Linked DNA regions of Homo sapiens. The protein of the gene in region 4 purifies or fractionates together with the protein of the main gene of each other region. This does not show direct contact. Each region holds a gene or a part of one and is shown on either strand. Other genes may lie near its edges.

Region 1 (3,500 bases), on a different chromosome or scaffold from region 4:
GATGCTTAGTTTGTTAGATAAATTCTTTTGAAATAAAATTTATGGTTGGTTTTATTACAACTCAATATTACTAACTCAGTGATAACTTATTAACTCAGTAATTATTAATTCAATAGTAATTTAATTATAATTTACCCTGTGTTAGGAACTTTGAGTTCTCAATATTTGCTAGGGGTTTTCAGCTTTGTGATGGTGATACTATCAAAAAAGAGACTGTCAAAATGCATTAGGAAGCCAGGCAACATGGTGAGACCCTGTCTCTTAAGGAAAAAAAATCTCCTTATTTGTATCAATATGAACAGAAAAAGTAAGACCACATATAAAAAATACATCATTCAAAGACTCTTGGCAATATATACATTGATTTACTACACTACATGTGTGAATAAAGAAAATGTGACGCTTTCAAACACGGGTCATTCTACTCCACTTGAAACAAATACATAACAATTGATATAGATGCCAATAAGATTAGAGGCAAAATAAGCTGGATATAGCTAGAATAGGAAATGATTTACACTACTAAGAAGAGAGCTAAACCGGGTACTTATGAGCTCTGATATTCTTTCATTCTTTGATTTACATGTATTTACTGAGTACCTGCTATGTGCCTGATGTGAAGAAATTGTGAACAAGATAAGATCAGTGTTGCCATTGAACATAAATTCTAGTGAGGGTGATCAGTAAAGAAACATTAAAATTTTATTTTATTATTATTTTTTAAATTGATATATGATAGATGTACATATTTTGGGGTACATGTGATAATTTGATACATGCATATAATCAAATCAGGGTACTTGGGAACCCTTAAATATTTATCTTTATGCTAAGAACATGCAAGTTACTCTCTTTTAGCTATTTTGAAATGTACAGTCAATTAGTGTTAACTAAAGTCACTCTAAGGGTTAAAGTTTTAGATGCTAAATTCAGTTTTGGGATTTAAGTGGGTAGTTATTTAAAGTAGGTAGCATACTGCCAGGCATGTAGTAGAGGCTAATGAAGTCATAGCTCCAGTCTGTTTCTCCCTACTAGATAGTAGTACATAAATAAGATACAGAAAATATGGGCAGATTTCAAGGTGAGCTGTAACTATGATGAATATGAAGAAAGTGTAGAGGACAGGGATTGTTTGGTGTAGAAAACAAAGTTTAGAGACTTCCTTTGAAGATTTTAACTTATATGAAGGACAGTGATTATTAATTTTCTCCTCCACTGAGGGGGAATTAAGGGAAATTATTTATTAAAAACCTTTAATTATGGAAAATTTCAAACATATATGAAGTAAACAGAATAGTATAATGAACTCCCATGTACCCATCACTTAATGTCAACAATTAATACTTTGCCATTTCTTGTTTGAGTGGTACCTCTGTTTACTCCCCTACCTCCACTAGATTTTTTTAATAGTTTTTTTTTGGGTAAGATTTATATACATTGTAATGGACAAAACTTAACTGCTTGATTTTTTTTTTTTTTTTTTTTTGAGACCGAGTCTCGCTCTGTTGCCCAGGCTGAAGTGCAGTGACATGATCTCAGCTCACCGCAACCTCCACCTCCCGGGTTCAAGAGATTCTCCTGCCTCAGCCTCCCAAGTGGCTGCGACTACAGGCACCCGCCACCACACCTGGCTAATTTTTTGTATTTTTTAGTAGAGACGGGGTTTCACTGTGTTAGCCAGGATGGTCTCGATCTCCTGACCTTGTGATCTGCCCGCCTCGGCCTCCCAAAGTGCTGGGATTACAGGTGTGAGCCACCGCGCCTGGCCAACTGCTTGATTTTGACAAATGTTCACATGGGTATAACTTACACTCCTGTCAAGATAGAGGTCATCTCTGTTACCCCAGGAAGATCCTTAGTGACCCTTTCTAGTTAATTCCCATGCCCTCCAGTCATCTGCTATTATTATTATTGTTATTATTATTATTATTTGAGACAGAGTCTTGCTCTGTTGCCCAGGCTGGAGTGCATTGGTGTGATCTTGGCTCATTGCAACCTCTGCCTCCCGGGTTCAAGCAAGTCATATGCCTTAGCCTCCCAAGAAGCTGAGACGACAGGCATATGCCACCTTGCCTGGCTATTTTTGTGTTTCTAGTATTTTGTATTTTCACCACGTTGGCCAGGCTGGTCTCCAATTCCTGGCCTAAAGCAATCTGCTTGCCTGGGCCTCCCAAAGTGCTGGGATTACAAGTGTGAACCACTGGGCCCAGCCTTTTTTTTTTTTTTTTTTTAAATAAACATAAATTACTGTCACCTGCTTTAGAACTTTACATTTAGGTGACCATAAATGTCCTTGACATCCTTTACTCACGATAATGTTTTTGAGATTCATCTAGGTTGTTGTACATACCAGAATTTCATTTCTCTTTATTGCTGTGTAGTAAGTGATCTGTTTTATGAATATACATGGTTTCTTTCACTTGTCCACATACGTACTATTAGGAATAAAGCAGAACATTATTGTATGAGGCCTTTTGTGGGCATATGTTTTTATTTCTCTTGAGTAAATACCTAGGATTGGAATCACTGGGTAATAGGATAGGTGCAACTTTATAAGAAACAGCTAGAGCTTTTTGTACTGTTTTACCTGCCCACCATCAATACATGGGAGGTTGTGTTGCTATACATTCTCACCAACAATCAGTTGTTTGCAGTCATGTATATTTTAGTCATCTTAATGGGTATGTAGTTTGTGCTTTTAATTTATATTTCTCATTTTGGTTTTAGTCTGTATTTCTGTGATGATATTAATATTGACCACTTTGAATTTTCATGCATTTATTAGCCATTTGTTTATCTTCCTTTGTGAAATGTCTTTTCAAGTTCTTTATCCATTTTAAAAATTGGATTTTGTTTTTATTGAGTTGTAGGAGTTCTTTTAGTTTTTTTTTGGTATATATATATTCTGCTTTTAAGTCTTTTCTCAGTAGTTTTGCTAGGTTGTGAAGATGTTTTTAATGCATTTTTCTAGAGGGTTTACCAATTTATCATTTAACCTTTGTTAAGGTCTATGATTTATTTTGAGCTACTATATGGAGGGAAGTAGGGATCAAGTTTCTTCTTCCTTTTTTTTGTGTATGGATATCCTGTTGTTCTAGAACCTACTTTGGAAAACACTTTTTCCATTGAGTTGCTTTGTCACCTTTATTGAGTAGTTGACCTAAGTGGTCTACTTCTGGAGTCTGTATTCTGTTTCATTAGTCTATTTGACTATCCTTATGTCAATACCATATTGTCTTTTTCTTTTTTTTTTGAGACAGAGTCTCACTCTGTCACCCAGGCTGGAGTGCTTGATCTTGGCTCACTGCAGCCTCCTGCCACCATGTTGGCCAGGCTGGTCTTGAACTCTTGACCTCAGCTGATCCGCCCGCCTCGGCTTCCCAAAGTGCTGGGATTACGGGCATGAGGCACTGCGCCCGTCGTATATTGTCTTGATTACTGTAGTTTCAGGTTTCCTAACCTTGGCACTATTGACATTTTGGGCCACATTGTTGTGAGGC
Region 2 (3,500 bases), on a different chromosome or scaffold from region 4:
TATTGTTAATTTCTTACTGGGCCTAATTTCTAAATCAAACTTTATCATAAGTACATATGTATAGGAAAAGGCATATGAACCCTACATGCTATATGCCCATATATAAACCCTGTATGGTTTTTCCCATACATATATACCTTATACCATATATATAGGGTTCAGTTCTATCTTCGGTTTCAGCCGTCCACTGGGGGTCTTGAAATGTATTCCCCATGGATAAGGGAGGACTACTGTACTGGATTTGGGATAGGGAAAATTTTGCCATCTTGAAACGTCTGTGGTCTTCACCAGGCAGGTGTGTCTCTGCCAGGTATGACAGAAGTGCTAGCATTCCAATTAAATAATTTCAGTGGCCTGTTGAGAATTTTTCCCCCCAAGGAACTATCTCTCTAAATTTAATTGGAAGCATAGTTTCTATGTCATGGAAAATTGCTACAGAGCCATCTAGCTGTGTGACTGTCCTACAAAACAAAGGAGATTGTCTCTATCCTTTGATTTATGGCTTTGGCTTTGTGTCTCCTCTTCCCTTTCTAAATGAGATGCCCTGTACCTCATCCCCCTGCCAGACCTACTCACTGGGAATGCTGCTTCTTTTAGCTGGGTCTGGACATCTCCAAGTATTCCACTCCCATTCTCCATGAATCATTTTCCCTAGATGGTTATGGGTGGTAAGGGGGGAGTTTTATATTTTCAAAGCAGTGGGGGTGGTAGTTTGCCTTGTGTTTATTTGCTTTTCTATTGTTCTTCCAGCACTGTATAATTGGTATAATTTTTCAATGCACAAACTCCGAAGCTCTAAAGTCTTTATAGAAAGCCAAATTCTGTTGGCACCCATGGTTCTGGGCAACGAGAACACACACATTGTCATCTGCCACCAGCCCTGAGCACCTGGAGTGAGGGAATGTGTTGGACCCCTGTGGTCTTTTGCTAACACCTTATTATTCTGCTCTGTCCTCAGTGAGATCCAGAAACCTGCTGATCTACGAGGAACATTCTCCCCCAGAGGAGTCATCCAGCCCGGGCTCGGCTGGGGAGCTGGGGGGCTGGGATAGAGGTTCCTCCCTGCTCAGGGTGTCAGGGCTGGAGTCCAGGCCGGATGTGGATCTTCCCCATTTCATTATCTCGAATGAGACCAGCCTGGAGAAGTCAGTGCTTTTGGAGCTGCAGCAGCACCTGTGAGTCATAGAGACACAGAGCCAACTCCTCTAGTGCACTGATGGTGGGTTATGAGTCAGCAACCTGAGATGTGAGGTTGAGACTCTCCATAGGCCTGGTTCAGTCCCTCAGCTCTCTCAGGACCTATTTCCAGGACCTGGGACTGCAGAGAGTCTGTTGCTGGCCAACAGTTGCCCTGAGCAGAGATGAGGAAAAAAACCAGCGTGAGCTCCCCTATGTCTGCTGCATCAGCGGGGAGCTGGCGTGGTGGCACAAAGAAGTGCTTGAATCCCTTCCCCCACTGTCTCCATCCTCCCTTCCAAGCCACACGAGTGAATGCACAGCCCAGGTAACCACAGTGTGTTTGCTGTGCAAATCCAACTTTAAGACATGTTTCATGGCTTCAACTAGGGAGTAGATATATATTGTGCTATATGTCAATATATGTTTATGATTTATATGTAAATACACATGTGTTAATTAAAACTATACATATTATAGTTTTATACTTATAGATGTATGTTGAGGGGTACCATTTAAGAGGCACTGTGCACACATTTCCATATTGAGAACAACCTCTATTTGGCTCCAATTCTACATGAGTTGTTTCTCAGTTTCTGGGAAAAATCCCTTTGTAAACATAAAGGCTTATGCGACTGCAAGGTATTGTTGTTGTAATAGGGGAGGTCCCTGGGCCTGCATGCATGCTCCTGGTTACGTGTGACATGGTTGGTGATTTAGCTGAACTCTGCTCCTATGCCTCCCAGAAATGAGGCCGTTCCGATGTAAATGGGAAAGATTTTGTTTCAGATTCTTCAGCTTTCATCCCCTAATTCTGCAGGGGAAGGTTTATAATGAAGTACTTTTATGTGTGTACATTATACATACATATTTAACATTTACTAGCACTTACTATTTTAAGCACTTTACAGATGTGAGGCAGGTTGACTATCCCTTATCTGAAATGCCTGGGACCAGAAGTGTTATAGATTTCAGATTTTGGAATATTTGCATTATACTTAACAGTTAAGCATCCCTAATCCAAAAATGCAAAATGCTTCAGTGAGCATTTCCTTTGAGCGTCATGTCAATGCTCGGAAATTTCTAGATTTTGGAGCATTTTAGATTTTAGATTTTCGGATGAGGGCTACTGAAACAGTATCATACAAATCCTTTTAAGTATCCCATGTGGTAAGGCATCATTATTATTCCCGTCATAGAGAGACTTGCCAATGTAGCCACCGCTGGGATCTCTAGAAGACCCAGTGCCTTCTTACTTGGCTCTGGACACAGTTTCTCTTCTCTCAGCTAAGCTGTTCAAGGCCCACTTCAAATCCCATTTGTTCTGTGATGTCTCCTAGATAACAAAGCCTCCTAGCCCTCCTCTGAATGCCTAGAAATTTTCCAGGTTGTTACACAATTTAATAATGTATTTATTTTCTGTTATGGATTTATTATTATTTCAAATTAGCTCATTGTTAAAAATCTTTATCTGGATTATTAGCTCTTCTAGGCCAAGGATCAGCTCTTATCATTTTATTTTCTCCTTCCCTGAGTTTAGCATAGGGCTAAACATCCTAAGTAAATAGAATAATTTAATGCATCTCATAGCAGATCAATATCAAGCCACCATGATTATCCTTAGTAGGGTTGGGATGCCTTGGGTGTAGATAAAGGTAGGAATGTGGACTAGTGGAGAGGCTGGTAGCAGGGGACTTTGGAAACAGAGAATTGCTACTAGGAGAGAAAAGGACAAGAAACATGCCCAGGCCGTCTCACCAAGTTGCAACCCCTGAATGATTGCATCACGCTACAAAGCATGAGAATTGTAGCTAACAGCTGGTGACTAATACTTCGTTTTCCTTTTAATGCCTTCACAGGGTCAGCGCCAAACTGGAGGGGAATGAAACACTAAAAGTTGTAGAACTCGACAGAAGAGTGAACACCACTTTCTAAAGAGGCTGCCTGCACCCCCTCCCTTTCCCTTAACTCTACTTTTACATCCCCAAACCACCTTTGTCATCAGCTTTTCCTCTTTGCCACTGGATCTTCATGGAGACATGGGCAAGCATTAGTGGCTTCAGATTGGAGACCAGCCTGGGACTTCCCTGCAGTGAGAGAGCATCTCCCCCTGGTCCATGCCCCTCCTGTGCAGAAGGGAGCCTGCATCCCTCCCTTCCTTTCTCTTACTGCCATAGGAAATTATTTTAGGGGTTGGAGGTGGGACAAGCAGGCTTGTTTCCACCAATAGTGCCAAAAAGATATTGCCTAATGTGCACCTGTGAGGTGTAACCCCCCGCTTTGGAGACGAGATGGCTCTTGTTCAGTCAAGACCCCAGACTCTG
Region 3 (3,500 bases), on a different chromosome or scaffold from region 4:
ATTGTTCTGAATTTAACCAGGGGAACCTTTTCAAGCCTGCTTTTTTGTCCTGATATGTTCCTATAATGCTTTGAATACTTTCTTGCTTTATGGCACAACTGTATGTTCTAACTTCAGGTTGTTCCCCCAGACCTGATATTACCATTTCTCCAAGAAACTCTGTTTTTTTTAGTAGGTAATGGTATTTTGAAACCAAGAACTGGATCCTATTGCTACTATGGGGCTGCTGCTTTGCACATTCAGTGGGTATTTTGCATCTTTAATTTATATTGATAGCTCCAATTCAGATTTAGTACCTTAGGATTCTTCCTTCCTTTGCTCCATTCCATATTTATATCTCTCTTCTCGCAATGTGAGAACTCTTGTTTCCCAAACATCATTATTACTCATGTGTTTCCATCCAGCCGTACACACCAGTGTTTTCACAATTATTACATCAATGCCACTTCCAACAATAAATGTACTAAATAAAGCTAAGGTATTTTTACAGCTCTTTTTTCTTAGAATATGTTTCACTAAGGATGTATAGAAACGCCATGTTCAAAAGTTACTTGAACTATTTTTTTGCATACCTATGTTATAAATTTGTAATATAATTTCATTTGCTTGTATTTAATTTTAATATTTGCTTTTATTCTTCTGTTTGATTTATTTTTATTGTTTGAATATGTAAAACAGTTGCTTTGTTCAGAAGTCAAAATGATAGAAAAATTTTACTCTGAGGTCTCAATCTCTTCCTTGTTTTTTTAAACCCTTTTCTTACCTATGCCCATAGATAAACATTTTCATAAGTTTCTAGTTTATTCTTATGTTTCTTTTTGTAAAAATAAGCTTATATATGCATGTGTACATGTACATACATCCTTCTTTATCCTCTTCGTTCTTAAAAAAGGTAGCGCTACTATACATACCATTTTGCACCTTTTTCTCACTGAACAAAATAAGTTGCTAGTTACTCCATATCAGTTTGTAGAGATCTTCCTCATTTGAAAAAAATGGCCACATAATATTCCATTATATAGATTTACCTTGATTGATTCATTATTTCTTATGATGTTATTTTTAGTAATTTGCTATTAAAAATACTCAGACATAGTTAATGTAATACCTAAAACGTCAGAAGCGCATGACATTTAGAATTAATGGTTAATCCTTGTTACTTTTTAATGTAACAGATTGCCAGTGCAAACATGAGAAGTGTATTTGATTATTTGTTATTTAATAAGATGCTAAAAATTTCTCTAAGCATCTTTTTCCTATTTAAGCAAGACTTCTGTGAGGAAAAGCGTAGTTATGGAAGTACCTGAGAAAAATGACTACTAGTTGCTAAAGCTTTTAAAAGATTGTGAAAGTAGTTTGAGGTGATGGTTATAAAAAAATTTAAACAGTACATGAGGATACAAAGTAAAATGTAATCCTCATCCCTTCTCAGATAAGTAAGTTATTATTGAATTTATGAATATACGTATATTTATATTTTAACACAAATTAGAATTTATACATTTTTTCCTTTTAAAAAAATTTATAAATGGATATCTTGCACTATGATACACATGTGGATCTTTTTCATTCATCATAACAACTGCCTAGTATTTCTTCTCTTCATTTAACAACTGTGTAGTATATGTTTTTTGATTGTTTTTGATTGTTTATAGTCTTCAGCTTTTATAAGCATCCTGCAGTAAACATCCTTATAGCAATATGTAGGCACATTTATAATCCGTAGAATAAGTTCTTTCAAGTGGAATTACTGGGTCAATGAGTATTTAAATTTTGATAGTTATTTTCAAATTACCTTTCAAAAAAATGTTCTATTGATTTTTTTATTCCCACCAAGAGTATATGAGATATGTATTGTTTGTAATGTCTGCACAGACTTTGATTATATAGAGGTAGTATATCATAGTTTATCATAAATTCTCATGTTGGTAGACATTTTAGGTTCTTAATGATTTTTCATTATTTTAGTATTTTATTGAATCCTTGTAAAGCTAAACCTATGTCTATACCCTTTGATAATTTTCTTGGAAACTTATGGAAATAAAATTGCTAGATCAAAAGCTGTGAGAATTTTTAAGGTGCTGATGAATGTTGTAAATATCTGATGAGAAAAGATGCCAGTTACAGTTTATATAAGCCCACCTGTTTGTGAATGTGCCAGTTGCCCTAAACCCATGCAAATATTGGAATGTTACTGTTTTTTTGATCTTTGTTAGTTTGAAAGGTGAATGGCATTTGTTTTAACTTATTTGTTTGATTGTTGGTGAGTTGAATTTTTTTACTGCATAATCGCATTTATTTCTTTAGAAAATTTTGTATGTTCATGACTTTTGACTTTTGTTTTGTTTCTCCTTATTGACTAGAAAAGTTATTTATATCAAGTATTATTATACCTTTCTTGAATATATTACATATAATTTTCTTCTAGTTCTTTTTCTTCTCCTTTGACATATAGAAGTTGGCGATCTTTTTATAGGTAGATCTATTAGTGTGATGCCTCCGAAGATTTTGTCCATGCCAACACTGCATAAAATCATCATTTACATTTCCTTCTAAGGGGCTAACAGTTTAGAAACCAATATTGGGTTGCATTTTTTTCCTGATTTTACATTATTTTTAGTACAGAGATTAAAAACAGGAAGTTGAATAAACTAAATTTATTGTGTTTATAATGTTTAAATGTTATAATGTTTAAACATTAATATTAAAGGAAATAATTTCACCATGGCAATTTTAGCTTTTTAAAGATACTTTTAGGTTTGTCAAGCAGTATGAATTACTTTTCATTTTCCCAATGCCTCGTCTTTACTATTTGTATATCAATATTTTGTTTTTAGAACTAAGGCCTAAATCTGTTCTGTGTTTTTATAATGATATGAAATAGATTTATATTATATTGGATGTCTCTTGGGGTAGAAAGTAGGAAACATCTTTTAACCAAAATTTTTGGTGTTACAAAGAAGCTTTCGGAATGATTTTTACTGGTAGTCATACAAAATGAGGGTCAGTATTTCTAGCTGAAGAGATTCTGGGGGATGGGATCTTTTGTTTGAGCCTCAGTTTGGGCAGGTCCTTAAGCACTGGGTATGTTGCCTGACTCGCTGTACTTTAGCTTCCTTGTGTATAAAGTAGTAGCAGTGAAACCAAGTACATAGGGTTGTTATAGAGGGAACCTAAAACAAAGTTACTTCTTAAGTTTTTTGTAGGCATATACTCTGTAAGTCATGAGTAGAAAAACCAATATCTAAAATTTTGGCCCTGTTGAAATATGTGCGAAAATTGTTTCTGCTTCTGTTTTTTACTTGAGTGGTTGAATTACAAATATATTTATCTGCTTTCTTCAGGAAGATACTTGTTTTTTAAAGGAGCAACTTCGTAAAGCAGAGGAACAGGTTCAGGCAACTCGGCAAGAAGTTGTCTTTCTGGCTAAAGAACTCAGTGATGCTGTCAACGTACGAGACAGAACGATGGCAGACCTGCATACTGCACGCTTGGAAAAC
Region 4 (3,500 bases):
CACTTTAACACCAGAGAAATTAGCCCTGGACACCACTCTTTTTTTTTTCTTTTTTGAGACAGAGTCTCTCTCTGTCGCCCACGCTGGAGTGCGGTGGTGTGATCTCAACTCACTGCAACCTCCACCTCCCAATTCAAGCAATTCTCATGTCTCATGACTCAACCTCCCAAGTAGCTGGGACTATAGGTGCACGCCACCACACCCGGCTAATTTTTTTGTATTTTTAGTAGAGACAGGGTTTCACCATATTGGCCAGGCTGGCCTTGAACTCCTAGCCTCAAGTGATCCGCCCACCTTCCTCGCTAAGTGCTAGAATTACAGCCATGAGCCACCGCACCTGGCCCTGGATACCACTGTTTACAGCTGCGTGGTCTTGGGCAGCATGCTAAACCCTTCTGAGCTTCAGTCTTCTTGCCTTTAAGTCATTATAATAAATACCACATGAAACCGTTGTAAAGAAAATTAGCCGGGCGTGATGGCGCACACCTGTAGTCCTGGCTACTAGGGAAGCTGAGGCACTAGAATCACTTGAACCCTGGAGGCAAAGGTTGCAGTGAGCTGAGATCGTGCCACTGCACTCCAGCCTGGGCAACAGAGCAAGACTCTGTCTCAAAAAAAAAAAAAAGACTGTTGTAAAGATTAAATTAGTTTAACTAAAACGTGGAAGTGTGGTGCTTGGCATTGAGTGTGCACTTAAAACGTAATAGATATATAGATAGCTTTTTTATGAGGGAAGTGAGTAAAATGGTGTAGGAAGAAATATCACTGGATTGTTACCAAGAAACTTGGAATTCAGAACTGGCTTTGGTTACCTTAACCAGCTGAATGACCCTGAGGCAGTCTCTTGCTGATTATAGACCTTGGTTCTATTTCTTAGAAGAGGCAAAGGGACCTGATAACCGCCAAGCTCTTTTGTCCAGCCTTAGCATTCTGTGATGATATGAAAGTATTTTTCCATTACTTACAGTCTGTTCAATCTCAGCTTACTTTAACATCACAGGCAAGATTGACAGATTAGTTACTTTTTTTTTTTTTGAGACGGAGTTTTTCTCTTGGTGTACAGGCTAGAGTGCAGTGGCACAATCTTGGCTTACTGCAATTTCCGCCTCCCGGGTTCAAGCAGTTCTCCTGCCTCAGCCTCCCAAGTGGCTGGGATTACAGACATGTGCTACCATGCCCAGCTAATTTTTGTATTTTTAGTAGAGACGGGGTTTCACCACGTTGGCCAGGCTGGACTTGAACTCCTGACCTCAGGTGATCCTCCCACCTCAGCCTCCCAAAGTGCTGGGATTACAGGCATGAATAGTTACCAATTTTTAAGGGATAGTAGTTTGAGATTACCAATGATGTTCCATTCATATATGATATCCACACCTCACCTTTTGAAACATGACTCTCATAAGTTGAGGGAAATTCCATTTTTTTCCCTAACTTTTCTTAATTTGTTTTTATGATCTAGCATTGTGATTAAGATCAAGATAAAAGCCAGATTGCCAAATTCAACTATTAACTCTGCCATTTATGCGTCATAACCTACCCCATGGGATTAAATACATTACTATATGTAATGTCCATAGTCCAGCATCTGGCACATAGTAAGCATTCAGTAAATGCTAGTAGTAGTTATCAGAAAAAGGAAAAACATGCTCTCCTAAAATCCCAGCATGCTGAATGTTTGAAGTATCTTCAATATACATTTTTTGTTTGAATCACTTTGTGTGTAGGTAACATAATTTTAATTAGAGTATAGTAAAAATGTTATACTAGTCTTTATTATATTGTAAGCATCTTCTATGTTGCTCTGAAATCTTATAAGCATCTTCTATGTTGCTCTGAAATCCTATTTAGTATCTTCTGTTTGATCAGGCCAGTATTATTTTCTTAGCCATTCATCTATTTGTATTTAATTTTACATTTAGATAATTTTTAATATTTCATTATTATAAGTAATGCTGAAATGCAATTATAATGCTATAATGGACATTATATATACTTCTTTTGAAGTACATACTTCTTTGGGATAAAAATACAAGAGGAATATTTCTGAGTCAAACACTGAATATTTTTATGATCATTGATATGAATTGCCAGATTGCTTTCCAAAAGAATATTAATATTTTACATGCTAGCAGCAATGTGTGAGTACTTTCTTTATCACAATGTAGCCAGAATCGGAAGTTTTAATTTTTTAATACTTTACCAATAAATATAACATATCTCATTGTTTTCTTTTGTATTTTATTTATCAGCACAGTTGAATGCTTGTCCAGATTTTTATTAATTATATATATTATGCATACAGTATGTATATACTTTGCCCATTTATCTCTTGGTTACTTGATAATTTACTTGTTTTGTCTGAGCTTTTTACATAATAAAGGAATTAACCTTATGTGATATTTCATGCAAATGTGTTTCTCAATCTAATTTCAGTTTTCTTTTAGATATTTTATTCTTGGTTGCATAGAGAGTTTATAGTTTTAATATAGTTCGCCTTCTTTGTTTTTTATTTTGTGATTTCTTGATCATTTCTAAATGTAAAATTAGATACTACAGATATTTGATAAGTACTACTTTCCTATGTAGAAGTGGATTAATTTGGAGACTTCCTTTTCAATTCTATATATCGATATTTCCCTTTTTTACAATGATAATACATTTTTGTTTTACCTTAGTTTAATTGTCTGGCAGTACTCTTAAAACCCGCAATTATTTTTCTCTGATTCTCTTCATTTATATTGGGTGCTATAATGGATGTCTTCAAAGGCTAAATTATACACCTTAAAAACCATACTTCAGCAGCTTTCCCCCTTCTTTTCAGCTTCATCTCTTTTTTCTTCTCTACTAGATCTTTCTCGACAGCATACCAACATGCTATTACTTCTCCCATCTTAAAAAAAAAAACTCTTTTAATCTACTATACTTTTCATCTTATCACCCCATTTCCCTCTGTCTCTTTAGAGCAAAAATTCCTCAGAAGAATAGTCCAAGCCGGGCACAGTGGCTCTTGCTTGTAATCCCAACACTTTGGGAGGCTGATGCGTATAGATTACCTCAGCTCAGGAGTTCCAGACCAATCCAGGCAACCTGGTGAAACCCCATCTCTACAAAAAATACAAAAAACAAAAAAATTAGCTGGGCGTGGTGGTACATGCCTGTAATCCCGGCTACTGTGGATGCTGAAGTGGGAGAATCACTTGAGCCTGGGATGTTGAGGCTGCAGTGAGCCATGAGCATGCCACTGCACTCCAGCCTGGGCAACAGAGTGAGACCTTGTCTCAAAAAAAAAAGAAAAATAATTTTTTTAAAAAAAGGATAGTCTATACACCATCTTCACTTTCTTTCCTTCAGGGTACTCTGGAACCCATACGTTTGTTTAGACTTTTCTCTCCTTCCACTCCACTGAAATTGCCCTTCTCAGATCAATAGTGACCGCCACTTGGCCAAACTGTTTGATCCTCATCTGACTTATCAGCAGCTTTTGATACAATTGCTCACTT

The links. The genes of interacting proteins can lie anywhere in the genome.
Region 1: the proteins of REEP3 (region 4) and RAB3GAP1 purify together in Homo sapiens (affinity purification with mass spectrometry; one large-scale study listed by BioGRID and IntAct). This does not show direct contact.
Region 2: the proteins of REEP3 (region 4) and CREB3L2 purify together in Homo sapiens (co-immunoprecipitation; one large-scale study listed by IntAct). This does not show direct contact.
Region 3: the proteins of REEP3 (region 4) and TAX1BP1 purify together in Homo sapiens (co-immunoprecipitation; one large-scale study listed by IntAct). This does not show direct contact.

What each region holds. Positions count from the first base shown.
Region 1 is NC_000002.12:135,058,792-135,062,291, forward strand, and holds part of RAB3GAP1 (rab3 GTPase-activating protein catalytic subunit), read left to right. Parts: intron 1-3,500. UniProt on the Homo sapiens protein: Catalytic subunit of the Rab3 GTPase-activating (Rab3GAP) complex composed of RAB3GAP1 and RAB3GAP2, which has GTPase-activating protein (GAP) activity towards various Rab3 subfamily members (RAB3A, RAB3B, RAB3C and RAB3D), RAB5A and RAB43, and guanine nucleotide exchange factor (GEF) activity towards RAB18.
Region 2 is NC_000007.14:137,880,087-137,883,586, reverse strand, and holds part of CREB3L2 (cyclic AMP-responsive element-binding protein 3-like protein 2), read left to right. Parts: intron 1-958; coding exon 959-1,175; intron 1,176-3,035; coding exon 3,036-3,111; 3' UTR 3,112-3,500. UniProt on the Homo sapiens protein: Transcription factor involved in unfolded protein response (UPR).
Region 3 is NC_000007.14:27,788,662-27,792,161, forward strand, and holds part of TAX1BP1 (tax1-binding protein 1), read left to right. Parts: intron 1-3,344; coding exon 3,345-3,500.
Region 4 is NC_000010.11:63,524,401-63,527,900, forward strand, and holds part of REEP3 (receptor expression-enhancing protein 3), read left to right. Parts: intron 1-3,500. UniProt on the Homo sapiens protein: Microtubule-binding protein required to ensure proper cell division and nuclear envelope reassembly by sequestering the endoplasmic reticulum away from chromosomes during mitosis.